6 separate regions of the Homo sapiens genome follow, and regions 1, 2, 3, 4 and 5 are each linked to region 6. The links come from fine-mapping of genetic effects on gene expression. A gene starts in region 6. Each other region holds a variant in brackets. All regions are shown on one strand. Distances are between the middles of the regions. Region 1 overlaps ERCC3 (ERCC excision repair 3, TFIIH core complex helicase subunit). Region 2 overlaps MAP3K2 (mitogen-activated protein kinase kinase kinase 2). Region 3 holds the start of LOC124906074 (a long non-coding RNA gene). Region 4 overlaps ERCC3 (ERCC excision repair 3, TFIIH core complex helicase subunit). Region 5 overlaps MYO7B (myosin VIIB). Region 6 holds the start of ERCC3 (ERCC excision repair 3, TFIIH core complex helicase subunit).

The links.
Region 1: its variant is fine-mapped to the expression of ERCC3 in whole blood (TOPMed, PIP above 0.99).
Region 2: its variant is fine-mapped to the expression of ERCC3 in subcutaneous fat (FUSION, PIP 0.95).
Region 3: its variant is fine-mapped to the expression of ERCC3 in whole blood (INTERVAL, PIP 0.97).
Region 4: its variant is fine-mapped to the expression of ERCC3 in whole blood (TOPMed, PIP above 0.99).
Region 5: its variant is fine-mapped to the expression of ERCC3 in ovary (GTEx, PIP 0.96).

Annotation. Positions count from the first base shown.
Region 1 is chr2:127,266,136-127,271,209 of GRCh38, reverse strand. The region is part of intron 12 of ERCC3 (ERCC excision repair 3, TFIIH core complex helicase subunit); the gene reads left to right. Among named protein-coding and RNA genes, the nearest start is that of ERCC3, 25 kb to the left of the region's middle. The variant G/A (reference allele first, on the strand shown) is at 2,967.
Region 2 is chr2:127,341,572-127,346,645 of GRCh38, reverse strand. MAP3K2 (mitogen-activated protein kinase kinase kinase 2) reads left to right here. Exons shown (of 17, transcript NM_001371910.2): 2 at 3,452-3,520. The coding sequence starts at 3,517. Among named protein-coding and RNA genes, the nearest start is that of MAP3K2-DT, 43 kb to the left of the region's middle. The variant TG/G (reference allele first, on the strand shown) is at 2,157.
Region 3 is chr2:127,359,859-127,364,932 of GRCh38, reverse strand. All of the region lies in intron 1 of MAP3K2 (mitogen-activated protein kinase kinase kinase 2), which reads left to right. It overlaps LOC124906074 (a long non-coding RNA gene), which reads right to left and starts at 2,806. Exons shown (of 4, transcript XR_007087227.1): 1 at 2,711-2,806. The variant A/G (reference allele first, on the strand shown) is at 2,663.
Region 4 is chr2:127,253,488-127,258,561 of GRCh38, reverse strand. ERCC3 (ERCC excision repair 3, TFIIH core complex helicase subunit) reads left to right here. Exons shown (of 15, transcript NM_000122.2): 15 at 835-1,272. The coding sequence ends at 966. Among named protein-coding and RNA genes, the nearest start is that of CYP27C1, 36 kb to the right of the region's middle. RefSeq lists a silencer at 3,163-3,363. The variant CTG/G (reference allele first, on the strand shown) is at 2,862.
Region 5 is chr2:127,623,011-127,628,084 of GRCh38, reverse strand. MYO7B (myosin VIIB) reads right to left here. Exons shown (of 48, transcript NM_001393586.1): 29 at 4,710-4,883; 30 at 3,765-3,992; 31 at 2,550-2,717; 32 at 993-1,110; 33 at 775-901. MYO7B-AS1 (MYO7B antisense RNA 1) reads left to right here. Exons shown (of 3, transcript XR_923314.3): 3 at 1-2,088. Among named protein-coding and RNA genes, the nearest start is that of MYO7B-AS1, 5.2 kb to the left of the region's middle. The variant GT/T (reference allele first, on the strand shown) is at 2,446.
Region 6 is chr2:127,291,782-127,296,855 of GRCh38, reverse strand. ERCC3 (ERCC excision repair 3, TFIIH core complex helicase subunit) reads left to right here and starts at 2,712. Exons shown (of 15, transcript NM_000122.2): 1 at 2,712-2,802; 2 at 3,138-3,343; 3 at 4,010-4,246. The coding sequence starts at 2,775.

The sequences.
Region 1 (5,074 bases), 26 kb after region 6:
CAAAGCAAAGACCTAGATCCTTATGGCCCATCATTATTTCTCATACCTTGGGGGTGAATATGCAGGTGTTTTCCATGACAGTGTCACGGAATCCACACAGATGTGCTCTGTACACTGTGCAGCTGTGTTGGTAGATGGTGAGAGGGAGCCAGGGCAAGGCAGTGCTTATGGGGTAGACATGGAAGGGAGAAAACAGAGCTGGGCCACCAGTGTAAGTGGAGGAGCTGGAAGCTGCTTCTGGAACTTGATCAGGAGGCAGGGAAAGGTTTGGTAGGAGCAGCTTGGGCAGACACACAATGGGCACGTCATTCATAACCTGTGCAGAGTGCCGCCCTGGTGGCAGCTTGCAGCAGGGGCAGGGCAAGCTCAGTGAGTGAGGAGGTGAGAATCCTCATTGCAAAGGCTTTTTCTGAGGAGGCGTGGCACCCCTGTGCTTGCTTACTGCGGTAAAAGGGCCCAGACTGCCATTGTGGACATGGCAGGGACTGACACTCTTGCTAAGAGATGGCCGTGTCTGTCTTACTGGGACCAGGGCACATCCTGAGACAAGGACACAAGCCCTATCCTCAAGGAGTCTGCTTATTCAAGGAGGCATCTGGACTGCTAGAATGTTTGAAAATGACAAGATTAGTGGGCATCTGTTGGAACTGTACTGCGTTCAGATGTGTTTAAGAAGCGTCTAGTAGCTTGTATTTAAAATGGAGATGAGGCAGATAGCATGGACTAGAAATAGCATGGACTCAGGCACCAAGCCAGCTGTGTCACCTTTGGCAAATTATTTTCTCCTCTGAGACTTGGTTTTCCCATCCAAAGTGGGGGTGACAATCCTGTCTTGCCAAGACTGCTGTGAGGATTCAGCTTATAAGTCATAAAATGTAGTCGGCTGGCTGGGCACAGTGGCTTACACCTATAATCCCAGCACTTTGGGAGGCCAAGGCAGGAGGATAGCTTGAGCCCAGGAGTTTGAGACCATCTTGGGCAATGTAGTGAGACCCCATCTCTACAAAAAATAAAACTAGCTGGGCGTGGTGGTGTGTACCTGTGGTTCCAGCTACTTGGGAGGCTGAGACAGTAGCTTTTATAAACTGACAGGACTATGATCTGCTAGCAAATGTGAATATAATTCATTACTTATTCCTTACTCTAATTTGAAAACTCCTTTATTGATTGATTGATTGATTGATTGATTGAGATAGAGTCTTATTCTGTCACCCAGGCTGGAGTGCAGTGGCACAATCTCGGCTCACTGCAACCTCCATCTACTGGGGTCAAGTGTGATTCACCTGCCTCAGCCTCCCGAGTACCCGGACTACAGGCGTGCACCACCACGTCCAGCTAATTTTTTTTGTATTTTTAGTAAAGACGGGGTTTCACCATTTTGGCCAGGCTCGTCTCTAGTGATCCACCCACCTTGGCCTCCCAAAGTGCTGGGATTACAGGTGTGAGCCACTGTGCCTAGCCTTAAAAACTCCCTTAAATGTGAATAGAAGGCCAGGCGCGGTGGCTCACGCCTGTAATCCCAGCACTTTGGGAGGCCCAGGCAGGCAGATCATGAGGTCAGGAGATTGAGACCATCCTGGCTAACATGGTGAAACCCCGTCTCTACTAAAAATACAAAAAATTAGCTGGGCGTGGTGGCGGGTGCCTGTAGTCCCAGCTACTCGGGAGGCTGAGGCAGGAGAATGGCGTGAACCCGGGAGGCAGAGCTTACAGTGAGCCGAGATTGCGCCACTGCATTCCAGCCTGGGCAACAGAGCAAGACTCCATCTCAAAAAAAAAAAAAAAAAAAAAAGTGAATAGAATTGTTTTCTTACTCAAAACACTGTTTAACATGACACTTGGCTCCTTTCTTTGCATCTCTGAGCTCTTGTAAGATTTGAGAAACAATTACATTCAAGGGCAGTATGCTTAACCTACTGACATTTGAACTACAAAGCAAAGATGTTCAGATTTTCCTGAAGGATCAAGTCTTTCAGGCCACAGAATTTTCTGTCCTAGTTTTTTAATACAGTAGTCCCCCCATATCTGCAATTTTCCTTTCCACATTCAATTACGCATGGTCAGCTGTAGTCTAAAAATATTAAATGGAAAATTCCAGAAATAAACAATTCATAAGTTTTAAATTACACACTATTCTGAGTAGCATCCATGATGTGAATTCTTGCTTTGTGCGGCATATTCATGCTTAAATTCTCCCCACCCATTAGTCACTTAGTAGCCATCTCAGTTGTCACGGACTGTCACTGTATCTCAGTGCTTGTTTTCAAGTAACCTTTATCTTACTAATGGCCCCAAAGCACAAGTGTAATGATGCTAGCAATTCAGATATGCCAGAGAAGCTGTAAAGTGCTTTCTTAAAGCGAAAAGGTAAAAGTTATTAATTTAAGCAAGGGAATAAAAATCATATGCTAAGGTTGCTAAGATCGAGGGTGAGAATGACTCTTCCTGCTGTACAAGATGATCATCCCCAGAGCACATAGCCGTCAGACTTTCCAAGGTCAATACAAAAGAAAGAATCTTAAAGACAGCTAGAGAAAGGGTCATATAACTCATCATGCTAACAGCAGACTTCTCAGCAGAAACTTTACAAGTCAGAAGAGATTGGGGGACTGTTTTTAGCATTCTTAAAGAAAAGAAAAGAAATCCTGGCTGGGCACGGCGGCTCACACCTGTAATCCCAGCACTTTGGGAGGCCAAGGTAGGCAGATTGCTTGAACTCAGGAGTTTGAGACCAGTCTGGGCAACATGATGAAACCCTGTTCCTACAAAAAATACAACAATTAGCTAGCTGGGTGTGGTGGTGTGCGCCTGTAGTCCCAGCCACTCCGGAGGCTGAGGCAAGAGAATCGCTTTAGTCTGGGAGGCAGAGGTTGCAGTGATCTGACATCTCACCACGGTATTCCACCTTGGGCAACAGAACAAGATCCTGTTTAAAACAAAAACAAACAAAAAAACAGGCCAGGCGC[G/A]GTGGCTCACACCTGTAATCCTAGCACTTTGGGAGGCTGAGGTGAGTGGATCACCTGAGGTCAGGAGTTCCAGACCAGCCTGGCCAACATGGTGAAACCCCATCTCCACTAAAAATACAAAAATTAGCCGGGCGTGGTGGCAGGTGCCTATAATCTCAGCTACTCAGGAGGCTGAGGCAGGAGTATTGCTGGAACCCAGGAGGCAGAGGTTTCAGTGAGCCGAGATTGCACCATTGCACTCCAGCCTGGGCAACAACAGCAAGACTCTGTCTCAAAACAAAAAAACAAAAACCAAAAAACCATAGTGAGACCCAGTCTCTTTAAGAAAAAAAATAAAAAAGAAAAATCCTAACCAAGAATTCCATATCCTGCCAAACTAAGCTACATGAGCAAAGAAGAAATAAAATCTTTCCCAGACAAGCAACTGCTAAAAGAATTTGTTATCACCAGACTGGCCCTACAAGAGAGTCTTGAGAGTTCTAAACATGGAAATGAAAGAATGGTGACACCTGCTACCACAAAAATACACATAAGCACATAGCCCACAGACCCTGTAAAGCAACTACACAATCCAAACTACAGAGCAACCAGCTAATGACACCATGTTAGGAATAAAGCCTCATGTCTCAATATTAACCTTGAATGTAAACAACCTAAACACCCCACCTAAAAGACTTGGAGTGGCAAATTGGATTAAAAACAAGACCCAGCCTTCTGCTGTCTTCAAGAGACCTCTCTCACATGTAACAGGACTCATAGGTTCAAAGTAAAGGGATAGGGAAAAAAATCTATCACACAAATAAAAAAAAAAAAAGAGTGGGGCAGGGGGTCACTATTCTTGCATCAGATAAAAGAGACTTTAAACCAGCCACAGTAAAAAAGGACAAAAAGGTCATTACACGATGATAAATGGTTCAATTCAACAAGAAGACTTAACTATCCTAAATATATATGCGCCCAACATTGGAGCACCTAGATTCATAAACCAAGTACTTTTAGAGCTAGGAAAAGGCTTAGACAGCCACACAACAATGGTAGGAGATTTTGACACCCCACTGACAGCATGAGACAGATTATAGAGGCAGAAAACTAACAAAGAAATTCTGTACTTAAAATTCAACACTTGACCAATTGGACCTAATAGGCATCTACATAATTCTCTACGCAACAACCACAGAATATATATTCTCATCTGCCCCCAGAATATACTCTTAAGATTGATCACATGGGCCTGGTGCCGTGGCTCACACCTGTAATCCCAGCACTTTGGGAGGCTGAGGCCGGCAGATTGCCTGAGCTCGGGAGTTTGCAACCAGCCTGGGCAACACGGTGAAACCCCGTCTCTACTAAAATACAAAAATTAGCTGAGTGTGGCGGCATGCGCCTGTAGTCCCAGCTACTCGGGAGCCTGAGGCAGGAGAACTGACTTGAAGCCGGGAGGCAGAGGTTGCAGTGAGCCAAGATCATGCCACTGCACTCCAGCCTGGGGAACAGAGCAGGACTCTGTCACAAAAAAAAAAAAAAAAAAAAAAAATAATTGATCATGTGTTTGGCCATAAAGCAATGTGAGACTTTATGCTCGACTTTATTAAAGTCTCAATAAATTCGGCAGGGTGTGGTGGCTTACGCCGATAATCCCAGCACTTTGGGAAGCCAAGGCGGGTGGATCACGAGGTCAGGAGATCGAGACCATCCTGGCTAACACAGTGAAACCCCGTCTCTACTAAAAATACAAAAAATTAGCCGGGTGTGTGGTGGCAGTTGCCTGTAGTCTCAGCTACTCGGGAGGCTGAGGCAGGAGAATGGCGTGAACCTGGGAGGCGGAGCTTGCAGTGAGCCGAGATCGCGCCACTGCACTCCAGCCTGGGCAACAGAGCGAGACTCTCTCAAAAAAAAAAAAAAAAAAAAAAGACTCAATAAATTCAAAAAAGTCGAAATCATACCAAGCATTTTCTTGGGTCACAGTGGAATAAAAGTAGAAATCAGTACCAGGAAGAACTCTCAAAACCACACAATTGGCCAGGCACAGTGGCTCATGCCTGTAACCGCAGCACTTTGGGAGGCCAAAGTGGGAGGATCATTTGAACTCAGGAGTTCAAGACCATTCT
Region 2 (5,074 bases), 50 kb before region 6:
ACCAACCTTGATTTTGTTGGATATATCCCAAATGTGCATGGTATATAATTTGTTTTTTAATGTTCTAGGTTAGGTTTGCTAGTATTTTATTGAGGATTTTTGCATCTGTATTGATGAGATATTGATCTTTAGTTTTCTCATCTTGTGATGGCTTTGTCTGGTTTTGGTATTGGAGTAATACTGGCTTCACAATGAATTGGGAAGTGTTCCTTCTTTTTTTTTTTTTTTTTTTTTTAAAACCAGTTTTTGTAAATTCTGTAAATGTTTGAAGTGATCTGGTCCAGGGCTTTTATTTGTGAGAAATTTTTCATTTCTAATTTAGTCTTTTTACTTTTTATAGGTCTGTTCAAATTCTTAATTTCTTCTTGATGAGTCGATTTTGATAATTTGTTTCTTTTTAGGAATTTGTCTGTGTCATCTCAGTCATCTAATTTGTTGATGTACAGTTGTTAACAGTATTCTCTTATCCTTTTTATTTCTGAAAGGTTGGTGTAATTGCTCCCTTTTGAATTCTTGAATTTAGTTATTTGTGTTTTCCCTCTTCTTTTTTTGATTAGCTAAAAGTTTGTTAGTTTTGTTGATCTTTTCAAAGGGCCAATTTTTGTTTTCTTGATTTTTTTTTTAAATTTCAGTGGTATTTTTATTTTCTACTCCCTATTCCTTTAGCTTGTTTCAGATTTAAATTGTTCCTCATCTTCTAGTATTTTAAGGTCAAAGGTTAGGTTATTGATTTGACATCCTTCTTGTTTGTCAATGTAAATATTTACAGTTATAAATTTTATCTTTAGATGCATCCAATACATTTTGTTTTGATGTGTTTTCATTTTTATCTCAAAGTATTTTCTAATTTTCCTTATGCCTTCTAGTGACCCATTGATTATTTTTATGTTTTTTAATTTTCACATATTTGTGAATTTTCCAGATATCCTTGTGTTGCCAATTTCTAATTTTATTGCATTTTTGTCAGAGAACACACTTTGTGTGATTTCAATCCATGTAGTTACTGAGATTTGTTTTATTACCTAATATTTGGTCTGTCTTGGAAATGTCCTATATGTATTTGAGAAGAGTGTATATTCTGCTGTTTTGAGGTTGATTATTCTGTAGGTGTTTGTTAAGCCTAGTAGTTTATAGTGTTGTACAAGTCTTGTATTTCCTCATTGATTTTCTGTCTACTTATTTTATCCGTTATTGAACGCAGGGCATTGAAATCTCCAACTTTTATTTTTGAATTGTGTTTCTTCCTTGAATTTTATACTTTTTTGCATTGTGTATTTTGCGATTCTGTTGTTAGGTACATATAAGTTTATAATTGCTATATCTTTTTGATGTATTGGCTATCTTTCATTATAAAATGCTGTTTGTCACAACAATTTTTGTGTCTGTTTTGCCTGATAGTGGTGTAGCCACTGCAGGTCTGTTTTGACTACTGTTTGCATAGTATATCTTTTTCTATCCTTTTACTGTCAACCTATTTTGTCTTCGAATTTAAAATGTGGACCAGGTGTTGTGGTTCGTAGTCCCAGCACTTAGGGAGGCCAAACTGGGAGGATCACTTTAGCCCAGGAGCTTGAGACCAGTCTGGGTAATCTGTACAAAATCTTTTTTTAAAAATCAGCTGGGTGTGATAGCATGCACCTGTAGTCCCATCTACTCGGGGGTGCTGAGGTGGGAGGATTGCTTGAGCCTGGCAGATCAAGGCTGCAGTGAGCTGTGATCATGCCAGTGCACCTCAGCCTGGGAAAGAGAGCAAGACCCTCCTCCTGTCCCCCAAAAAAAGTGTCTGTTGTAGGCAACATATTCAGGTCAAAATGTTTGGGACCAGAAGTTTTTTGGATTTTTTTCATGTTTTGTAATATTTGCATATACATAGTGAGGTATCTTGGGAAAGGGACCCAAGTCTAAACATGAAATTCTTTTATGTTTCATATACATCTTATTCATATAGCTAAAGGTAATTTTATACAATTTTTTAAATGTTTTCGAGACAGGGTCTTGCTCTGTCACACAGGCTGGAGTACAATCATAGTTCACTGCAGCGTTGACCTCCCTGGCTCAAGCAGTCTTCCCACTTTAGCCTTCCAGTTAGCTGGGACTACAGGCATGCACCACTACACCTGGCATTTTGTTTTTTAAATCTTTTTTTTTTTTTTTTT[TG/G]GTGGAAATGGGAGTCTCCCTATGTTGCCCAGGCTGGTCTCAAACTCCTGGGCTCACGTGATCCTCCCACCTTGGCCCCCCCAAATTGCTAGTATTATAAGTGTGAGCCACTGTACTAGCCAACAATTTTTAAAATAATTTTGTGTCTGAAACAAAGTTTCTATTATTACCCTTGTAGGCCTCTTGCATGGGGGAATTTGGGCATGCATGGAAAAGATATATTACAGTGGAAGGGGCTGGTAGGGTCTCTTTTCTCCTGGGGGATGCTGAATAAACTGAGTTGTGCATCTGCCTTTTGACTGTGACATATCACATGAGGACAGGTTTGTGGAATTTTCCATTCATAGTGTCATGTTGGCACTCATATTTTTCATCTTATTTTCTAGTTGACCTGGGGATTACAGTTAACATCTTATAATAACATAGTTTGAGGTAATATCAACTTAATTGCAATGGTATACAAACACTTTTTTTTTTCTTCTAGGCAGTCTCGCTGTGTCGCCCAGACTGGAGTGCCACAGCTCACTGCAACCTCAACCTCCCAGGCTCAAGTGATCCTCCCACCTCAAGCCTCCCAAGTAGCTGGGAGCTACAGGCATGCACTACTGCACCCGGCTAATTTTTGTATTTTTTTGTATAGATGGGGTTTCACCGTGTTGGACAGGCTGGTCTCGAACTCCTGGGCTCAAGCAATCCGCCTGCCTAGGCCTCCCAAAGTGCTGGGATTATGGCATGAGCCACTGCACTTGGTCATAAACACCTTTCTTTTATGTAACTCTATCCTTTCCCTTTCCTGTGTGCTGTTAATATTATGTGAATTATATTATTATATATTGTATACCCAGCAACACAGTTATAATTATTGCGTTATGCAGTTTTTTTTTTAAACCAACATATTAGTTTCCTATTGCTGTTTATATAGAAAAAGAGTTAATGTAGTGGGCCTGATTGCTGATTTGTAGAAGGCCTGCTTAGGAGTTAGCCTTTGGCTGACACCTGAGAACTTGGATTTCAGGAGAGTTCCTGCCTCCAACTGATAATGGTTTGTACAAACACTATGGTTTATGCTGAATACCTGCTTTTCTTCTGGGAGTCTGGAATTTTGGTATGTGTTAGGCAAGGGGGTGCCTACATGATCAACCTTCAATATAAAACACCTCCCCCTAGCGAAATGTGTAAAGTATTCATATTGTATATTTTTCATTAGTATTATTTAAACTGACTTTTTTTTTTCTTTTCCTGGCTCCTTTTCTGTTTCTTTTTATTAATATGCTGATCTGTTTTATCTTCTCAGGCCATAAAGAATGCTGATGGGAGAACCATTTTCCTAATTTTCAAATTGTTGAGCTGTTTGCCATAATGGGTGAGTTCAAACTAAAAGCATTTTTCAGCAATAATTAAAGGATAGAATGGAAGTGAAAAAACTTTCTCTATTATGTGTTATTATAAACCTTTTTATAAATAAATTTTATGATATAGCAGATTTATGAAATGTTTTATATTTACTTAATAGACTTTGAATTAAAGTACTTTTTGTGTTGCTGTAGTTTTAGAATGATCATTTTATGCGTAACAGCAGGGACATTCAAAATAAGCTGTTAAGATGTGTTGTGATTTGCTTAAAGTCTGATGGCAAGAGAGAAATCATAAAATTTAATTTTATCATTCATAGAGCAGCAAATCATTGGTGCTCAGGGAGAATATGTTATACAACTCTTGGTCGTATATTGTGGTATAATGTTAGTTTAAAGACACTAAAGTATGGGAATGGATTGTGTATGTTCAGTTTACATATTTTGTTTTCCTGTTTACCTCCTTTTTGTTTTTTCCTTTTCTCCTTTGTGTTAAGGGTTCCAGCATGAGGCAGGGAATTAGTTAGACAGGAAGACACTAGAAGGAAATGGAGTCACGAATGGCCCACCCTATCCTAAATCAAGAAAAATGGTACTGAGTAGTTGGATGCTAAATTTTGAAACTTAGACTGATCCTGGGATTTAATTCTGACATTTGCTTGCCAGAGTTTGCCTTTATCACACATTTTCTACTTCTTGCTTAACAAAACAAATACACACACACACACACACACACACACACACACACCCTCATGAAGAACTTATATTTGCCCATGTGATGAAAGTGGGGGCTAGGACACTTTCACTGTGTGTCATTGTAGCAAGTATGTAAGCTTAGACTTCACCTCCCTACTTTAAAAATTGTTCTTCCACTTCCTCTTCTGTAGTCATGAGTAGCAGTGCCCCCTTGTAGCCCAAATTCTCCACTCTAGTCAGCCTTACTTTCAGCTCCAAATTGGATGTACTTTTACTGAACTTCTTTCAACTTTTTATTTTGGGTGCTGTCACTTGTACTCTATGTATCGATCAAATTTATTTTTGTCAGCCTCAAATAATACTGCTCTATAGTAGGGCAACATTCATTGCTTAAAAACATACAAAGTTAGTCACAGAACACCATGACAGATGTTTGAATTTTTGATTGAGGATGTTCTTCTGTAATTATTTTTCAAATATCATGAATAAGCATATAAGGTATTTAATTCAACATTTCTGATAAAAGATTTTTGAAAAAATTATTTTCCAAGTATTTTTTGGTTTTGTGCTCAATTCAGTGTCCTTCCAACATGTGTCAGAAACCCATTGGGCCGGGCGTGGTGGCTCATGCCTGTAATCCCAGCACTTTGGGAGGCCGAGTCGGGTGGATCACGAGGTCAGGAGATTGAGACCATCCTGGCTAACACAGTGAAACCCCATCTCTACTAAAAATACAAAAAATTAGCCAGGCATGGTGGCGTGCGCCTGTAGTCCCAGCTACTCAGGAGGCTGAGCCAGGAGAATGGCGTGAACCCAGGAGGCGGATCTTGTAGTGAGCCGAGATCACGCCACTGCACTCCAGCCTGGGC
Region 3 (5,074 bases), 68 kb before region 6:
CGGTCTCAAACTCCTGACCTCAGGTGATCTGCCTGCCTTGGCCTTCCACAGTGCTAGGATTACAGGCGTGAGCCACTGCGCCTGGTCAATAGTAGCTTTTATTAGTAGTCATTGCAGTAGTAATGAGAAGAGATTGAGAAATAGGAGGGGTATATTTTTAAAGATGAGGGGAAAGGTGGAGGGAAAAGAAGATGAGTGCAGAATAAAGTAGAAGACATAGTTCCTATATTTGAGGTTATTGTAGTCTAGTGGCAGAGAGCACATGTAAAAATATGGAATAGTTAGGAAGCTGTTCTATGAGGTAATATCCTTTCAGAAAGGTGACTGTGTGATGAGTGGAGAGATGGCAAGTGCTGTCATTCCAGTGTAGCCAGGGTTAGGTGGTAGTGTATGTGAAATGTCTAGCACATCGTCTGACAGTCCACAGACGATAATTCTTTTCCATTATCGTTTATACATGGTAAGATGACCAGGTGAAGAGGACAGGGAGGGCTTAAGCTGGGCCCTTAAAAGATGGTTTGGACAAGTAGAAAAAAGGAAGCATTTCAGACAGCACAGAGACAAAAAGTAGCTATCAATAAGGCATATGGAACACTTCGTAGTATAACTCAGAACCTATTGACTCCTACTCTTTGCTTTTTTTGATTATCTATTTGCTTCTTTTGGTTATCCGAATGGTTTCCTGGGTAAATTGTTTTGAGATGCAAATTAGTAGTAAGATTTACTAAAGAGAGGGGAGATGGGTATTCAAGGGATGAGCAGAAATCAAGGACCAGGAAGGGGGCTCTATTAATAGCAAGTCCTTTGAGAAAAGCAGATAGGTTAGATTGACTGAAACATATGTGTGCTATATTATGTTATGGTTGTAAGGAGAGTCAAATTTGCAATTTATTTAAGATGTTTGGTAATAGGCTAGCTATGTGCAAAGTACTGTTAGGTGCTGTGGGAGATAGAAAGATACCTAAGTAGTGTTTCCTGGCTGGGCTTGGTGGCTCTTGCCTATAATCCCAGTACTTTGGAGGCTGAGGCAGGAGGATCACTTGAGGCCAGGGGTTCAAGACCAGCCTGGGAAACATAGCAAGACCCCATGTCTAGTAAAAATTGAAAAATTAGCCAGGCATGGTGGTGTGTGCCTGTAGTCTTAGCTACTCAGGAGGCTGAGGTAGGAGGATTGCTTGAGCCAGGCTAGGTGACAGAGTGAGACTCTATCTCTAAAATAAATAAGTAAATACATTTTTAAAAGGTCCTGTATAATGAAGACAGCCAGCTACACAAATAACATTTTTACAAAGCATGGAATGAAGAGGATTACAGGAATTGATTTGAAGAGAATTGGCTAGTCTTGGGTTTTTGTGTTGGAGTTTGAGGTTCAGGCAACGTGTTGACTTCAGAATTCTGACTGAGAAGTACTGTGTTTGATATCATTGGGGAGTTTTGCAATAGAAAGTGTTAAACTCCCATCAGCAAAATATTAATATGTTGTTCAATATGAACTGATTTTGACTGAAGCCTTGGTCATGGTTTTATTATATTAATAAAGTATTAAGGTATAAATTCTGCTTACTTTGGAAGGATTTTTAATTTTTAGAGGATGTTAGCATTTTATCATTTTTAAAATCAAGATTGGTGAGGAGAGCATATTGGCACACAGTAAGCATATGTTAAATGTTGGTTGAAAAAAATAAACAAACAACGAGAGGCAGTGTAATACACAGTCATCCCTTGGTATCTGCGGGGGATTGGTTCCAGAACCTCGACTCCCACAAATACCAAAATCCCCAGTTGCTCAACATCTCTTATATAAAATTGAGTAGTACTTGCATGCAACCTACACACATCCTTCCGTATACTTTAAATTGTCTCTTGATTACTTGTAATACCTAACACAGTGTAAGTGCTGTGTAAATTATTGTTACACGGCATTTTTTGTGTTTTTTTATTGTTGCATTATTTTAAATTAAATTTGTTTTCGATCTCCAGTTGGTTGAATCCACACATGCGGAATGTGCAGATAGGGAGGGCCAACTGTAGTGTGTAGAAGTGGATTCTGCCCAGGATTGGGCTCAAATTCTGAACCTAATAAATGTTAGCTATTTTTTAAATGTTCACTCTGCTCTGGTATTGTTCTAAGTGCTTTACAAATAATATTAAATGTTTGTAACAATCATATAAAGTAGATACAGTTGTCTCCGTTTTTACAGAGGAACCGTGGCACTGACAGCCGTTATTGCTAATTATCGTCCATAAACAGTTGAGTGATGTTTTTGGTAAACCAATTATGGGTTGTTGCTTTTTTTCTAGTGCCTGATAACAGTATCAGGGACAACAGTCAGGGTACAGATTGAGAATTTTTTTTAAAGTCTAAATTTGTTCTAAGAGCTACCTTCTTTCCTCTTTAAAATAATCAAATATAGAAAAAAAATTAAGATTTGTAAACATTTGTAAACATTTAAAACAAATTCCCCCGCATTCTCAGTATTGAGAACTAAGTGGGGTGGGGGAAACCCCTAAGTGTGTATCAACTTAATTTTGTTTAACAAACATTTGCATAATTACTACTATATGCCAGCCTCTTTCTAAGCACTTTACATTAACTTAAACGTTTAACTTCCATAGCAATCTTGAGATACTATTATGCCATAAATCTCCATATTACAAGTAA[A/G]GAAATCAAGGCAAAGAAAGATTAAGTCATTTGCCTGCGGTCACACACCTGGTAAGTGGCAAATGCCGATTTCAGTCCCAAGCAGTCTGGTTCCACCGTCTGAGCTCTTCTTGCTGTCTTTATTTTTGTATGTAACATGACCCACTGAGAGAGAAAGTATGGATGAGTAAGAAGGGATCTGTTAAAAATTACAAATATATTGTCTGAGTAATACCTTAAAAAGGAGAAAAATCAATTTGCCGCTTAGAGTTGAATATTGCCTTTAACACTGAGCTGTTTGGAGGAAGAGAACTGACATCTGATAAGGTGTCAGGTGTTTGTGTTAGGTGTTATATATTATTTTATTCAGCACTTAAAGCAAACCTGTCATATAGTCTCTTCTATCTTCATTTCATAAACAAGGACATGGGTTTGTAATAGCCGAGAGTCACCTATAACTACCGCTAGGTTTTGAACCCAGGTCCCTATGTGACTCTAAAACATTCTACAATACTTTGTGTCCTAAGGAAATATTAAAAACTCAAATTTATTTGCCAAATAAACTACACATTCTTTTGAAATATTAATTCAAGAAATGATAAAACATTTTATCAACTAAAAGACCTTTTAAAACTCGATAAGAGAAAGGAAGCAAATACATCCCAAATGTGATAATTACTAGGACCACAGGGACCACTAGATGAAAATTAGATTTTTCTCTGCCTTTCTGAGGATGTGCAGGCATGTTTACAAATGACTGCCACTTTATGTGGAGTGTGATCATTCAAACAATTTGAGATTACATATGTGGTATGACTATTAAGTTATTAAAACTTAACCAAATTTATTGCATCTATGGAAGTATTATTTCTTTTATTCATTCTGGGAGGCTCTATATTGTTGCTTTTATATTATTACTTAAAATGTTGGGAGAACACTTTTTAAATTCCCTTTTAATTTTTTTTTTTTTTTTTTTTTTGAGACAGAGTGTTGCTCTGTCCCCCAGGCTGGAGTGCAGTGGTGTGATCTTCACCCACTGCAACCTCTGCCTCCCGGGTTCAGGCGATTCTCCTGCCTTAGCCTCCCGAATAGCTGGGACTACAGGCGCCTGCCACCATGCCCAGCTAATTTTTTGTATTTTTAGTAGAGACGGGGTTTTACTGTGTTAGCCAGGATGGTCTCGATCTCCTGACCTCGTGATCTGCCCACCTTTGCCTCCCAAAGTGCTGGGATTACGGGCTTGAGCCACCGCGCCCTGCCTAAATTTGAATTTTATATGGTTTTGAGTAAATGATAGGGTACAAAGTTCAAAATGTTTGGAAGGATACACAGTGAAAGGTCTCAGAACCCTCTCCTCTCTTCCTTTTACCTGCAGCCACCTAATTTTTCTCAGAGGTGACTGGTGTTATGTGGGAAATACTTCTTTGAAATTAACTTCAGAATTTTTGAATACTTGCAATTAGGATATATGTAACCAATGACGACAGATTTGACTTCATTTTTTAAAAACTCAGTTCATTTACGGTCTGGCAAACAAAGGAATCACCAGTTTAAGTAATATATTTTTTAAAAATCAAAAGCAAAGATGTCTGCAGAGTAATGAGATTTGTGGTGTGATTCATAAATTGGCCTAAAATCAATGATCAGAGTTGCAGAGCTAGTAGCATTAAAGAATAATTTTGTAAAATAACTTGAGATAATTAACATACAATAAACTGCACATTTGAAGTATATAATTATGGCAAATTTTGACATATGTGTATAACTGTCAAACTGTCACCCCTAGTTTTGGTAGTTATAAATAAGATAGTGAACATATTCATCATCTCTGAAAGTTTGTTCAGGCTCTTTTGTAATTCGTCACTGTCTTACCTCTATCCGTTGTTCCTAGATAACCAATGATCTGCTTTTTTTTTTTTTTTTAAACCAGTGATCTACTTTCTGTCACCATAGATTAGTTTACCTTTTCTAGAATTGTGTATAAATGGGGTCATGCAGTGTATGTGTGTACTGTTTTTGAAGTGGGGAAGAGTCTAGCTTCTTTCACTCAGCATAATTGAGATTCATCCGTATTATTGTATGTATCAATAGTTTATTTCTGTTTATTGCTGAATATTATTTATTCTACTGTATGGCTGTACCACAATTTGTTTAACCATTTACCTGATGATGGACATTTGGGTTTCCACTTTTGGGCTATTACAAATAAATCTGCTAAGAACATTTGTGTACAAGTATATTCATGTGGACATATGCTTTCATTTTTCTTGAGTAAATACGTAGGCATTGAATGGGTGGGTCATATGGTAGGTGTATTAGTCCATTCTTGCACTGCTATAAAGAAATACCCAAGACTAGATAATTTATAAAGAAAAGAGGTTTAATTGGCTCACAGTTCTGCAGGTTTTATAGGAAGCATGATTTTGGCACCTG
Region 4 (5,074 bases), 38 kb after region 6:
CCAGCCTAAGGCTTTCCTCCCCCGACCCAGGGGGCACTCTCCATGGGAACCCAGGAGAGTGCTCTCATTGCTCTCACTGGTTTTAAGGAGGTGCCTGGTTCATTCTCCTCACAGGATAGCAATGTCAGCACTGATGTGGTTATCCCCATTTTACAGATGAGGTCATTGAGGTGCAGACATTAATTACTTGCCTCAGGGTTACTCAGGGACAGGAGGAGCCAAGAGTCAAGCCCAGGGCTTTCTGTCCTTCCACTTGATTCAAAGCCTTATGGTGGTGTCTCAGGAGATTTTAAGGAACTTTTGCCCTAACTGTTAAAAAATTCTGTTCAGGCCAGGCATGGTGGCTCATGTCTGTAATCCCAGCACTTTGGGAGGCCTAGGCGGGAGGATCAGTTGAGTCCAGGAGTTTGAGACCAGCATGGTCAACATATCGAGACCCTGTTTCTCTCTTAAAAAAAAAAAGTTTGTTCAGAAGTTGTTATTAAGTGAGGTAGTGTGGCATTATGGTTAAGAACAGTCTGAAGCCAGGCTACCTGGGTGTTCAAATCCCATCTCCTTAAGAGCTATGTGATCTTGGATAGGTTAGTTAATCTCTCTGTGTCTCAGTTTCCTCTTCTTTCAGGTGTGGATTATAGTAGTTTTGAGGATTAGAGGAGATAATGCATGTAAAATGCTTAGAACAATGCCTGAGACAGTAAGCGATCTGTAAACATTATTAAAAATGATGTATTAAATTTATGTAAGTCTTATAAAATTTGCTGTGATTATAAGTATTATAAAAGGAGTATCTTTTCTTCTGGAGACTAACATGGGCTGGTTCCCCCTTCCCGGCAGGCATCTCGGCGCTTTGGCACCATGAGTTCTATGTCTGGGGCCGACGACACTGTGTACATGGAGTACCACTCATCGCGGAGCAAGGCGCCCAGCAAACATGTACACCCGCTCTTCAAGCGCTTTAGGAAATGATGCTTAGGCAGGGTACTTCGTTCAAGACCGGCGCTTGGCACCCTTGTTGGAAAGGGATTTTCAGCATAACATTTTCCTTCCACCTCTTTGACCTTCCCTCCAGCGTTGGCCAAATTGTGCTGAGGAAGATGCATCAAGGGCTTGGCTGTGCCTTCATAGGTCATCTAGGGTTTTATAAAGGAGGAGGAGACAATATTTTTTCAAACTTTTTGGGGAGTGGGGTCATTTCTGTATATAAAAAATGTTAATATTTAAGGTGTATTTATGTTACCGTTCTGAATAAACAGAATGGACCATTGAACCAGTCTTCATTGTACAAGTGTTTTTATGCTTCGTCCTGGGCATGGGTTATGTCTGGATGACCAACCTCCATCAAGGCCCTACTTTGTAGCAAGCACAGATGAGTAAGATGGAGCCCATCCCCAGGGAGCTACCAGAGAGATGTACCCTGAGATAGAAGAAACGTTGGCAGGAAAGGCCTGGGGAACGGGGAGGGTGATCCAGCCAGAGGGAAGAGCCTGGGTAGTTGACTGTGGTCCCTGCTCACAGCTTAGCCTGGTGGATTCAGACTGGGGCTTCAACCGCACAGCTTCCTGCTGTTCTGGTGGTCACAGCTGTTCCTACAGCCTCGTCCGAGGTAGACACCCACGTCATGAAGGCCTTCCAGGTTGGCTCCTGGTGCCTCATCTTCTCTGAGAGAGTGACCTCTTGTTTCTCCCTCAAAGTACGTTTTTAGAAATTGCTGAGAGGCTAGATTCCTCTTCTAATAGCAGTTTAGTGCCCTTGGGTGTTTTAATTGCTACTTCCTTTATTTTTAATGGCTTTGGGCTTTTCTTTTATGTTCCTGGTATGAAAGCAAAGGTGTTGAGGAATAGACAGGCCAGGTAGGATTGCTTCTTGAAAGGTAGGCACACATAAGGCATATTCGCCTTGCAGAAAGACTTGTGATTCTGAGGAGGAAGCCCACTCTGCCTGTAACAGGAAACAGCGCTCACACTTGGGGAGTGTTGAAACCCTGGCTACATAAGGCTTCCAAGTGGAGTCCCTCCCCATCCCCACAGCTCGGCAGCAGCTTCCTGTCCTCAGCTCTAGCACAGGTGGGCTACTCTCTGTGATGCAGCCACAGACTGAGGAGAAGAAAGTATTAGGTTGGTGCAAAAGTAACTGCAGCTTTTGCCATTACTTTTTTTTTTTTTTTGAGACAGTTTCACTCTTTGTCCAGGCTGGAGTGCAGTGGTGCGAACTTGGCTCACTGCAACCTCCACCTCCCGGGTTCAAGCGATTCTCCTGCTTCAGCTTCCCAAGCAGCTGGGACCGCAGGCGCCCGCCACCACGCCCAGCTAACTTTTTGTATTTTTAGTAGAGATGGGGTTTCACCATATTGGCCAGGCTGGTCTCAAACTCCTGACCTTGTGATCCGCCCGCCTCGGCCTCCCAAAATGCTGGGATTACAGGCTTGAGCCACCACACCTGGCCACCATTACTTTTACTGGCAAAAACCACAATTACCTTTGCACCAACCTAATACCTCTCTTATCAGGGGGCTTTGAAGCAAGAGCCACCTGCCCCACATACCGCCTCTCTGAGCTGACCTTTTGGTGACAAACACACTCTCATAGTCTGGTCAGTAGCTGGTGCTGCCAGGCATCTAGCCACTATCAGTGCAAGCCCCAGGAACCAGCAACAGGGCCCTCGCTAGGAGTAGGGGGCCCGAGCAGCCCTGTCTGAGGTGCGGGCTTGAGCCCACAGACTCGCCTGTCATGTAACCCTGATGGGTCGGCACTCAAATGTTCAAACTTGACTGTAACTCTTTTCAGTCTACCTCCTGTCTTGCCTTTACACTTGAGATCCTCAAACAATACTGAGCATTTCCTGTATTTTCACATTTCTGGCCC[CTG/G]TTTTCTTGTCTACTGACAATGTTGAATTTTACCTGAGCACTGTGATCCTAGGAAATAGATACATTTAAAGGAATCCCTTGTCCTTGGTGTTCTGGAAAATGGCTTACTGCAGAGAACCATCCTTCCTGGTATGACTCATGAATGCTCCCCTTGAAGACCCCAGTCGAGGCCAGACACAGGCCTTCCAAATTCCCATTCTTTGCCTCATAAATTAGCTAAACTGCTTGTCCCCAGTGATCAATGGGAACAAAATGCTTGTGAACCAGACTTTGCTTTACAAACTTTGGCTCACCCTCCCCTCCACCCCTCGAGAGAATAGACTGGACTCAGGGTAAGTCACTGATTGGATCTACTGTCCCACCATGCTACTCCCCTTCATCCCACTTCCTGTCTTTTACTTGCTTCCCCTCCCTATAAAAGAAAACCCCTTTTGTCTAACCCTGAGACAAACAGATCTTATGTTCAGTGCATTCTCCCTGCTGCAATAGTACACCCCTCCCCACCACTTTGCAACAATCCTTTCAAATAAAGTCTCCCTTTACTAAGTCCAGATTTTTTCTTCTTATTTTTCTTAACATTGTCTATTCTGTGAACTTGAGTTCCAGATTTTTTATTTGACATCATGTAACAAGTTTTTATCTAAATTTCCAAATGTCTGTTGGTAGTATATAAAAATATAATTCATTTTTATATATCAGTTTTTATATATCATTCCTCAGTCATGCTAAACTCAGTTCTAGGAAATTTTTCTGTAGATTTCTAGAATAAGTAGACTAAAATCAATGAAGATATAGAAGACTTGAACAATGCTATTAACCAACTTGACCTAATTGACGTTTACAGAATTCTCTACTGAGTAACAGCAGTATAAGCATTATTTTCAAATACACAGATCACTTGCCAAGACGGAATCAATTTCAGGCCCTACAAGTCCATTGGAAAGTACATTGGTAAGTATTTAAGCCATACAAGCTGTAATCTGTGCCCACAGTGTGATTAAGTTAAAAATCAATAGAAAAAGAGTCTGGAAAACCCTCAAATATTTGGAAAACGTGGTGGTTAATTTTAGGTGTCAGCTGAGTTAAGGGATGACAGGTCACTGGTTAAGCATTTTTGGGTGTGTCTGTGGGCATGTTTCCAGGAACGAGGAGCATTTGAAGCTGTAGACTCAGATCCACCCCCACCAACGTGGGTGGGCCTCATATACCCATCAAGGGACCAGACAGAACAAAAGGATGGAGGAAGGGTGAATACAAATTGCAGAATACAATATTGATACATTAAAAAAAAAATCAATTGGCCGGGCGCAGTGGCTCACACCTGTAATCCCAGCACTTTGGGAGGCCGAGGCAGGTGGATCACCTAAGGTCAGGAGTTTGAGACTAGCCCGGCCAACATGGTGAAACCTCATCTCTACTAAAAATACAAAAAAAATTAGCCAGGTGTGATGGTAGGCGCCTGTAATCCCAGCTACTCAGGAGGCTAATGTGGAAGAATCTCTTGAACCCAGGAGGCGGAGGTTGCAGTGAGTTGAGATCACACCACTACACTCCAGCCTGGGCTACAAGAGCAAAATTCTGTCTCAAAAAAAAAAAAAAAAATCAATGATCTTTTTATATACTTAGAGACAAACATTTGGAAGTTGAAACAAGAATACTATTTACAATAGCATAAAAATATGCAATGCTTAGGGATTATCTTATGAAATATGTAAATTCTGCCTGTATTAGCCTATTAATTTAATCTTTTTTTTTTTTTTTTAAACAGGATCTCACTCTGTCACCCAGGTGAGTTCAGTGGCACAATCAAAGCTCACTTCAGCCTTGGCCTCCTGGGCCCAAGCGATCCTCCTGCCTCAGCACCCCAGTCCGACCCAGTAGCTGGGACTACAGGCACCTGCCATCATGCCCGGCTAATATTTTTTTTTTAAATTTTTTGTAGAGACAGGGTCTCACTATGTTGCGCAGCCTGGTCTTGAACTCCTGGGCTCAAGTGATCCTCCTGCCTTGGTTTCCCAAAGTGCTGGGATTACAAACGTGAGCCACGGCACCTGGCCGGTTTAACCTATTTTAAATCAAATTCTTAACCAGATTTTTCATGGAAACGTACAAACTAATGGTAAAATAAATGTCAAAGAATAAAGAAACAAAAATATCAAAGAGAATTTATAAGAACAGTGCAGTAGGCACAGGAACAGAAAAATATACCAG
Region 5 (5,074 bases), 330 kb before region 6:
GGTCAGAGCTGAGATGAGCTGCCGGCTCTGCCATGTGCTTACTCTGAGCCACCTAACCTCGGCGTGCTTCAGTTTACTCATCCGCTCATCTGCAGAATGGGTGATGCTGTCGGTACTTCGTGGCATACAGGAAAGTGCCCAGCATGGTCAGCCTCAGTGAGAGGTGGCCAGTGGGGAGTGGTGGCCACTGTACACCTGGCACAGCCCAGAGATGCATGTGCCACTCTGTTGTGTGCTTCAACCAAGGGGCGCTCTGGCAGGGCTTGGGTGGGACTTCCCAAAGGGCATGGAAAAGTTCCCAGTCAATGAGATCCATGGAGACCCATGGGAGTGGGGGTCAGCCCCAGCCTAAGAGGACCCCCAGCCCTGCCCTGTGCCCCAGGACACACCAGGCACTGTCCCTTGTCGCCTTCCCAGACAACCTGTACCCTCCAGGCCACCAGTTCTCGTCCATGACAAAGAAAGGAGCCTTCTAAATAAGTGCCCGCCAGAGGCTGCACGCTTCCCTGCCCCTTCCGGGTGGACCTGGGTTTCAAAGAGAAGCTGCCAGTGCAACGCGTGATGCCCCAATGGAGTACTTCATGGGCAGTACGGCCTGGTGCAGGAGGGTGGGGCTCCGAAGTACAGAAGCCATCGCATACGTAGATTCTTGTCCCTCCACCCCGGCCTGTTACCCGGGACGGCACACTGCCCCTCTCCCCATCTCTCCCCGAGCCCCCAGATGCATCACAAGGACTCAGTGTGTAAGAAGAGATCTTCCCTCAGGGCCCGCACCTGTTGGTGGCCAGACCCATGACCTCTGGGAAAGAGAGTTCCAGCAGCATCTTCTCCTGCTGGTCCAGGAAGCAAAGCCCCTTCCAGTTAACAGCCAAGATCAGCTGCGTCTTGGGCAGGCGGGGGCCTGGCCAGGAGAGACGGCAGTGTGAAGGCTGCATGGGACCCCTGGGTGCCCAGCCCATACCTGCTCCCTGCCCCCTGTCAGATGCCATTACCTGAGAGTGTGATGACTTCGAAGAGCCGGGAGAAGAGCAGCGGCCACTGCAGGCGGGCGGCGTCCACCACCTGCTCTCGCACGGCCAGTGGTGTGACTTGCTTCTGAGTGTATGGGGCCTGAGGGGGGATCCTGGATGTCACCTCCGTCACCTGCCTTCCCTAGTGAATCCCTCACCTAGTGCTCAGGGTAAAAGAGTTGATGGATCCTTCTGAGAAGGCTCTACAAGGCCAGTGTCTGGAGATGGATCCTGTAGGGAGGCACCTGGGACGTCCCCAGGGACTGGTGCAGCCCTATCCTTTTTTTTTCTTTTTTGAGACAGAGTCTCGCTCTGTCACCCAGGCTGGAGTGCAGTGGTGCGATCTTGGCTCACCGCAAGCTCCGCCTCCCGAGTTCAAGCGATTCTTCTGCCTCAGCCTCCCGAGTAGCTGGGACTACAGGCGCGTGCCACTGCGCCTGGCTAATTTCTGTGTTTTTAGTAGAGGGGGTCTTGCCACCTTGGCCAGGCTGGTCTCAAACTCCTGACCTCAGATGATCCACCTGCCTTGGCTTCCCAAACTGCTGGGATTACAGGCATGAGCCACCACGTCCAGCCTGGCGCCACCCTATTCTACCTGGGAGGGGTGTGGGGACCCTTTAGGAGGAGGGAGGAAGGCCATCCCGTCCCCTCATTAGCATCTGTAGGGCGGGGCTGCGCTAGCTGTGGAAGGCGCTGTCTGTGTGCCCCAGCCCAGGCTCGCTCTTGCCAGCCTATGCCTTGCAGGATTGTGACTCGTTCCGTGCAGGAGGGCATCTTGCTCCGAGTCTGTGTCCCGGGTGCCTCTCTTCTTTCTTCTCTGGAGCTCTTCTGTGTCTCTGGGGGCCTCTCTCGGGGACCACCTCTAGCTCCTTGTCTTCCAGTCTCCTTCCTTCCTCTTTCCTAACTCCCCACCTTCACCCGTTCCTCTCCCCAGCACCACTGTGCTGTGTCCATCACCGACTATAATATCCAACCGAACTCTCTTTTCACTGTTGAATACAGCGTTATTTCTTAGAAAAGTGGCTGGGTACTATTCATATACTGGCTTTGGGAATGTAATAAATGCATCAAATCTGAAGGGTGATTTGAAAATATTCGATATGTATCGAATGTTTAGAATGTCCATACACTCTGGCCTGGGGGGTTCCCATGCACCCAGCGAGGGGATGCTGAGGCCCAGAGGCAGGCAGGGGGGCCCCCAAGGCCATGGTATGGTCAGCAGTCAGCCACTGCAGGTGCCCTCTCATCCCAAGAAGCGAGGGCCTGGCCAGACACCACAGTGCAGACCAGCACAGGGACCCATCCAAGATGCCAGCTTGGAAGGAAGAAGGTGGCATGGGCCTGTGACAGAGAGCTGAACTGAGTGGGACTGCTTAAACCTGAAGGGACAGGGCTCTACTTAACTGTCAAGCTGAGGCTTGTTGTTCCCCAGGGG[GT/T]GGGGGTTGTGGGGAGGGAATCCATCTCCTCTGTATACCATGAGCCCCCCCACCTCCCAAAGGAGAGCCCTCGGGTGGGTGCCTGAGCTGCATGCAGGCTGACCTTGGCGCAGGCGGCAGTGACGAGGCTCGCCCACCTGTCTGGGGGCTTGGTCCTGTACAGCTTGTGGGGGATGCAGCTGGGCAGCAGCTCCTGGACAGCCTTGCTCTCTGCTGAGGCGCCGAGCTGCACGTAGCAGTGCCGGGCCAGCAGCTCAACCAGCTCTTCCTCCTGCACAGCCCAGGGCACCCACGGGGGCGAGTGAGACAAGTGAGAGCTCCCCCCTTCCCCAGGATGCCCCTGTCCCGTGGCCGGGCTCTTGCCCCATCACAGGGGAGCTAACCTGTGGCTCGGGCAGGACCTTCCCCCTCCCTGCATGCCCTGACTGGGCCACCATGCAGGCTGGGAATCCCAGAGGCCTTGGCCAGAGCCTCACAGGCCCTCTGCCTGAGGACAACGGCTGCTCTCCAGTTCTGGGGTGGACCCAGCAGGGTTGCTCTGAGTGACAAGGCGTTTCCTCATCTGAGTTCCAGTCCTTGGTTGTCAAGGGAGACCAGTAGCCCCCCTTGCGGAGTTTCTGCTGGGGCCCAGCTGGGCAGCACCCAAGGAGCCCCTTCCCTCTGGAAGACCAAAGCCTCTTGGAGCCTGGTCCCCTGCCACCCCCTGCCCATGCCTCTTCCAGGCGGGCTTCCTGCACTGCTATGGCCGCCTCCAATGGGTCCCGGAACAGCATCTGCCTGACTTGGCACAGGGAGGGTTGTGCCTGCTGCCCCCAGAACTTCAGGGGTACGATCACTCTGCTTTCTCACAATCCCCTACAAAAGAGCTCCCGGTACACTCCGCACGGTCCAGGTGAGAGCCCCTCCCGAGCCCCCCAGTCAGATGAGGGCCCAGGGCTCTGCGGTGACAGGACTTTCCAAGGTCACAATGCCAAGAAGATGGGGAGGTGGGATTCAGACTTAGGTGTTAGGGCTCCAAGGCCATGTTCTTGGCCACCAGATCTCACTGCCCCATAAACAGAGCAGGAGAGGTGAGGCCAGGCAAGGCCTGGGCCCTCTGGGACCTGCTGCCAGAACCACGGACCCCGGAGGCTTGGACATACCTGTGGCCTAAGGGAGGAGGAAACAGAGGCTGGGCCTGGAAGGGACCTACACCCTTGTGACCCCCTTTCCTGCCCCCCCACCTTCTACCTGGCCTCAGAAGCCAGTTGGGTGCCTCCTCTATGGGATGTTTCCTGATGGCAAAGCCTAGGGTGGACCTGGCTCTCAGGCCCCTCACCTTCTCGAAGCTGTACTCGCCAGACCAGACTCCTCGGAGGACTTGGCGGTAAATAAGCTCGGTGCTGACAGGGTCCTCCCGGGAGTCGTGCCAGGGGGTGAAGAATTCCTTCCGGAAGTAGATGCGCCAGGGTGACTGGCGCTGGCTCTCGCCCCTCTCCTGGGCCATCTGCTCACACCGGGCGATGGCATCCATCATGTGGTCGCGCCCGCTGCCCAGGGACCAGAACTGAGGCCAGAGTCGGGGAGCAGGGGTTAGCGGCTGTTGCATGCCCCACCCCACGGGGACGCCCACCGTCAGCGTGTGCACGTAGAAGACAGGGCCTGGGGCCCTTGGAGCCCAGCGTGGGCTGAGTGGACACTGCTGAGCCCGTGTGGACACCTGAAGGGCTTCTCCACACAGCAATGGCCCATCTGCCACTCCCCATTACTCTCCCTGCAGCCCCTTCCCTAAGGAGGCAGACATGAGTCTGGCCGATGTGACTCATCCGGCGCCTCGGTTGGATGACTGGTGTGTGAGTCTGAGGGTGTGGGCGTGGAATTGGGGGTGCCTATGTGGGCGGTGAGGGTCTGTGCTGGTGTGACCCTCCATGTTTGCTGCAGGGGTGTCCACAGCTCCTGGGCATGAGGGAGTTTGGAGCAGGAGACTGGTGTGAGTGCCTGATGTCTGTGCGTGGCTGCTGGGTGGGGGACCAGGTGTGCATGCGGCACTGCTGGGGCTGAGGCGCAGCTGCAAGGTGACCATATGAGTGCGGGAGGAAAGGCTGTTTGCTCTGTGTGTGTGCACCTGCCTGTGCCTGGTGGCTGGGAGGGTAAGCAGTGCTGTGCCTGGCAGCTGGGAGGGTAGGTGGTGGCCGGGCTGGAAAGGTGAGAGGGCTTGAGCCTCAGGGTGCTCTCCCTGGGTGTATGAGGGAGGCGGCTGACGGGCAGGGTGCCTGGCTGGTACCTTGTCGTACACGGCGACCTGGAGGGAGAAGCCCAGGTGGTCGCTGAGGCCCTGCTTGTGAGCGATGTGCATGCACATTTCCCGAGATGTGGAGGCTGAGTCCACGGGGACGGTTAGGCTCTCTCCAGTGGCCAAGATGACTTGGATGGGGATGTGCTTCTTGGACTTGACAGCCTGGGGACAGATGAGATTCAGTTCCCTGGCCTCTTGGAACCTATGGACAGGAGGCCAACCCCCCATCCACTACCTCCCTCCTCTCCCCAGCCCATGGGCCCTGCTTGCCATCCCGTGGGTTCCCAGGGGTGGGCCCTCTGAAGCCCCAGGCCATGGGCTTGGCATAGAAAACAAAATTCAGGCCAACAGGT
Region 6 (5,074 bases):
CCAGGAGGTTGAGGCTGCAGTGAGCCCAGATCGCACCACTGCACTCCAGTCTCGGCAACAGCAAGACCCCGTCTCAAAAAAAATAACTTTTTGAGGGGTGGGGGACACAATTCAACCCATAGTCTGTCCTCTGGCCCCTACAAGTTCATATCCTTCCCACATGCAAAGTACATTCACCCCATCTCAACATCAACAAAAGTCAGTCATTCTAGCATCAACTCAAAGTCCAGTATCATCTAAATATCAGTTCAAATCTCATCACCCAAATCATCCACATCAATTGACTCTGGGTTAGGTTTCCTGTTGGAGCAAATTTTCTTTCTATCTATGAACCCATGAGAACAGACAAGTTATCTGCTTCCAATTACAATGGTATAGGCAGAGGATAGACACATTCCATTCCAAAAGGGAGAAATGGGAAGGAAAAAGACTTGGAGGTGCCAAGAAAGTCTGACACCTAACAGGGCCAATGACAGGATTTTAAGGCTTGAGAATAATCCTCACTGGCTTGATCCTCTGTCCTCAGGGCCCACTGGGGTTGCAGCCCCGCACCCTCAGAACTGAGGAGGTGGTGGCCGTGGGTTCAAACCCAAGCCTGTCCCTTTCAGTCCTGTGGTGGCGGAAGCAGCCTCACTGGCCTCTGAACTGCCCCTGCCAATCCCTTTCCTACCTGTGGAATCCTGGGAGTCCAACAGCCTTCCTTCATTTCATCCCATCTATGTACCCTAGTCAAAACTGTCCAGGTTTCTGTGGAGATGGGTGATTGGGTCTATAAGCCACACACCTAATCTCTTGCAAATAAATGGTTGTCCACATCCTTAGTGTTTCTCCAGAGCATACTTTCTCTCTCTCTTTTTTTTTTTTTTTTTTTTTTTTTTTTTTTTTTTTACAATGTGAGTATAAGAATGATCCAAATCTTCAAGTTCTGGTTCCTTTTTGTTGAATAATTCCACCTTCAGTGTATCTCTTCTCACATTTCACTATAAGCAATAAGGAGAAAGCAGGCCTCAGTTTTTTTTTTTTTTTTTTTTGAGACGGAGTCTTGCTCTGTTGCCCAGGCTGGAGTGCAGTGGCGTGATCTCTGCTCACTGCAACTTCTGCCTCCTGAGTTCAAGAGATCCTCCTGCCTCAGCCTCCTGAGCAGCTGAGACTACAGGCGCGCGACACCACGCCCAGCTAATTTTTGTATTTTTAGTAGAGACGGGGATTCACCATATTGGCCAGGCTGGTATTGAACTCCTGACCTTATGATCCCCTGCCTCGGCCTCCCAAAGTGCTGGGATTACAGGCGTGAGCCACCGCGCCTGGCCCAGGCCTCACTTTGAACCATCATGTAGAAATTTCCTCAGCAAAATGTCCAAGCTTATCACTTATAAGTTCTACTTTCCACCCAACAGAATACAATTCAGGCAAGCTCTCTACCACTTGCCTCCAGTTTCAATAACATATTTCTCCTTTCCATCTGAGCCGTCACCAGAATCACCTTTAATGCCCATACTTCTACCAAGGCTCTTCAAGACAATAGAGGCTTTTCTATCATGCGCCTCAAAATTCTTTCAGCCTCTACCGATTACCCAATTTGAAAACCACTTCCCCATTGTTAGGTATTTGTTACAGCAGTACCCTATTCCCCGTACCAAAAATCTGTGTTACGTTCTCCAGAGAAACAGAACCAAGAGGCCCACTGAGCAAGCGAGATTGATTGATTGATTTTAAAGAATTGGCTCATGCAATTGTGGGGGTTGGCAAGTTGGGAATTCAGGTACGAGTTGATGTTGTAGTTTTGAGTCCAAAGGCTGGAAACTCAGTCAGAACTTTCTGTGTTGCAGTCTGGAGGCAGAATTCCTTTTTCCTTGAGAAACCTGTCTTTGCTCTTAAGGCCTTCAACTGATTTGGATGAGGCCCACCCGCATTATTGAGGGTAATCTGCTTTATTTAGGCTGAGACATGAGAATGGCATGAACCCGGGAGGCGGAGCTTGCAGTGAGCTGAAATCGCGCCACTGCATTCCAGCCTGGGCGACAGGGCGAGACTCCGTCTCAAAAAAAAAAAAAAAAAAAAGAAAAAAATTTTTTTTGAGACGAACTCTCGGCCTGTCGCCCAGGCTGTAGTGCAGTGGTGCAATCTCAGCTCAGTGCAGCCTTTACCTTCTGGGTTCAAGAGATTCTCCCATCTCAGCCTCCCAAGTAGCTTAGACTACAGGCGTGTGCCACCATGCCTGGCTACTTTTTTTTGTATTTTTCGCAGAGATGGGGTTTCACCATGTTGGCCAGGCTGGCCTCGAACTCCTGACCTCAAGTGATCCACCCACCTCAGCCTCCCAAAGTGCTGGAATTACAGGCGTGAGCCACCGTGCTCAGCCAAATTTTTTTTAATTAAAAAAAAGAATTCTTCCTTACCCATGGACTCAGGTCACATTCTCTCTCTCTCTCTCTCACACACACATTTATTGCCCACATGGCTTCATTAAAATTTAAGTTCCAGAAGGATGAGGCCTTTAATTCGCGCACTACACAGGTGCTCAACACACAGTATTTTCCTTCAGTTGTAGAGAAATGAACAGTGGAGGACCCCCGCCGCTGGGTCGCACGAGCTAACAGATCGGCGGTCGCTGGCTCTCCGCTCTTCCAGCCACCCACATCACGGCGCCTAGAGGCGGGACATCCTGTGTGGACAACAGGGAGCTTCCGGATTGAGCCGGAAGTCCCCCCAGAGCGGATGCCGCGGCGGGCCTGTGGGAGCGGGGTCATCTTCTCTCTGCTGCTGTAGCTGCCATGGGCAAAAGAGACCGAGCGGACCGCGGTGAGACGTTGCGCGGGCACGCTCAGCCACGACTGCCCTTGCCGGCCCTGCCCCCCGCTCTGCCTCGGAGCTGCTCCGGGCCTCTGCGCCGGCCGACCCTGCTGGCCCTCCCGCGCGCACCCCGTTGGGACAGGCCTTTGGGCGGGAGAGATGCTGGACCTGGGCGCAGCCCAGCGAACTCGGCCTAGGGGAGACGGGTGAGGGGCGCAACGCCTGCGGGATGCAGGTGGCTCTTAGCTAGGAGTTTGCGGCGGCGCAGGTGAAATGCTGCCAAGCGGTGCGGAGGGAACCCTGAAGGCTCCTGCTGGGCTTACTTCTGTGTTGGTATCTTGCAGACAAGAAGAAATCCAGGAAGCGGCACTATGAGGATGAAGAGGATGATGAAGAGGACGCCCCGGGGAACGACCCTCAGGAAGCGGTTCCCTCGGCGGCGGGGAAGCAGGTGGATGAGTCAGGCACCAAAGTGGATGAATATGGAGCCAAGGACTACAGGCTGCAAATGCCGCTGAAGGACGACCACACCTCCAGGCCCCTCTGGGTGGTAAGCATGCCCTTAGCTTGGGCAGGGCCCAGGAGTGTGCGGAGCGGCAGCTAAATCTTGGGCATCCTCAGAGTCAAAACTGACATTCAGGATACTGCCCCTAGAACTGGCCGGGAGAGAATTTTCATCCACACACGTTGGAACAGCCCAAGGCAACAGCGAGCAGTTGCGCACACGTGTGGCGGCCGGACCTGGGCTTCCAACAGCTCTAACCCCTCGGTTTACTCTCACTCCTTCCCCAGCCCTACCCCATGTAGTGAATCCTTTTATCTGCCGAATAAATAGCATTTATCATGTAACAGTTTGTTTCCTCAAATAATGGAAGACATGTTCGGTAGCAAGCTTTTGCTCTACTTTAAATAATTAATGTTATACATTTAGTTGAAATCTAGCCAAAAGGTAACTTGAGGATAGCCAGTAAGATGGGCTTTCTCTGTGCAGAATAGTAGGAAACAGCTGTTGACTTTGGAAACACTTTCTTCTATTTTTCTTTACTCTTCTGTATCTGATTAATGTAACAGGCCCCACAGTTGTCTGAAGGAGTGCTTGCAAGAATATCTGTGGTGTTGGGCAGCTTATTCTTTCTTGATAATGATATGGGCAAGAGCCCAGTAGTCTCTGCAACTCATGTTTCCTTGTCTGTTTTGTCCATTTGGTATCTCTCAGGCTCCCGATGGCCATATCTTCTTGGAAGCCTTCTCTCCAGTTTACAAATATGCCCAAGACTTCTTGGTGGCTATTGCAGAGCCAGTGTGCCGACCAACCCATGTGCATGAGTACAAACTAACTGCCTACTCCTTGTATGCAGCTGTCAGCGTTGGGCTGCAAACCAGTGACATCACCGAGTACCTCAGGAAGCTCAGCAAGACTGGAGTCCCTGATGGAATTATGCAGTTTATTAAGGCAAGTGACAGCTGAGACCAGCAATTCCACCTGCCCTGCTAATGTAACAATAGGCATAGGTGCTCCATGTTGTCAGCCTGTGGCAGCCATGAGAATGTGCCATTCAGATTTCCTGTGGGGAGCATAACGACTGATTACCCCAGCCGCTACACTCTGGATCCAGCATTGTGTTCTGGGTGAGGCCATGCTTCTCATGAGCCGCTACACTCTGGATCCAGCATTGTGTTCTGGGTGAGGCCACGCTTCTCATGAGCCGCTCCCAGCTGTGGGTATTAACACAGAGGGGCTACTAATTCAGGCCCATTGTAGCCAGGGAGAATTTGGAAATGCAGCCCAAAGTGAGTGTGCTGGGGACTGAATTGTGTGTGTTCCCCTCAAATTTTGTCTTCAAAACCTAATATCCAATGGTAATGTATTTGGAGTAAGAAAGTAGTTAAGACTAAATGAGGTCGTGATCCGCTATGATTAGTGTCCTCCTAAGAAGAGACACCGGAGCATGCTTTCTCTCACCTGCCCTTCTTGTCATGTGAGTACACAATGGGAAGGTGGTCCATAGACAAGAGCCTTCACCAGAAACTGAATCGGCTGATACCTTGATCATAGACTTTCAGCCTCCACAGCTCTGAGAAAATACAGTTCTAATGTTGAAGCCACCCAGTCTGGAATTTTATTATGGCAGCCCAAGCTGACTAACACAGGTGGTAAACTCTGTCTAAAGCTAAGTATCTGCAGGAGACCAATAGTCAACAAGTTCCATGAGGGAAAGTCAAAAACAACTTCAGATGTTTTTGACAAAACAAAGAGGGTTCCATGTGATTAATAGTTGAA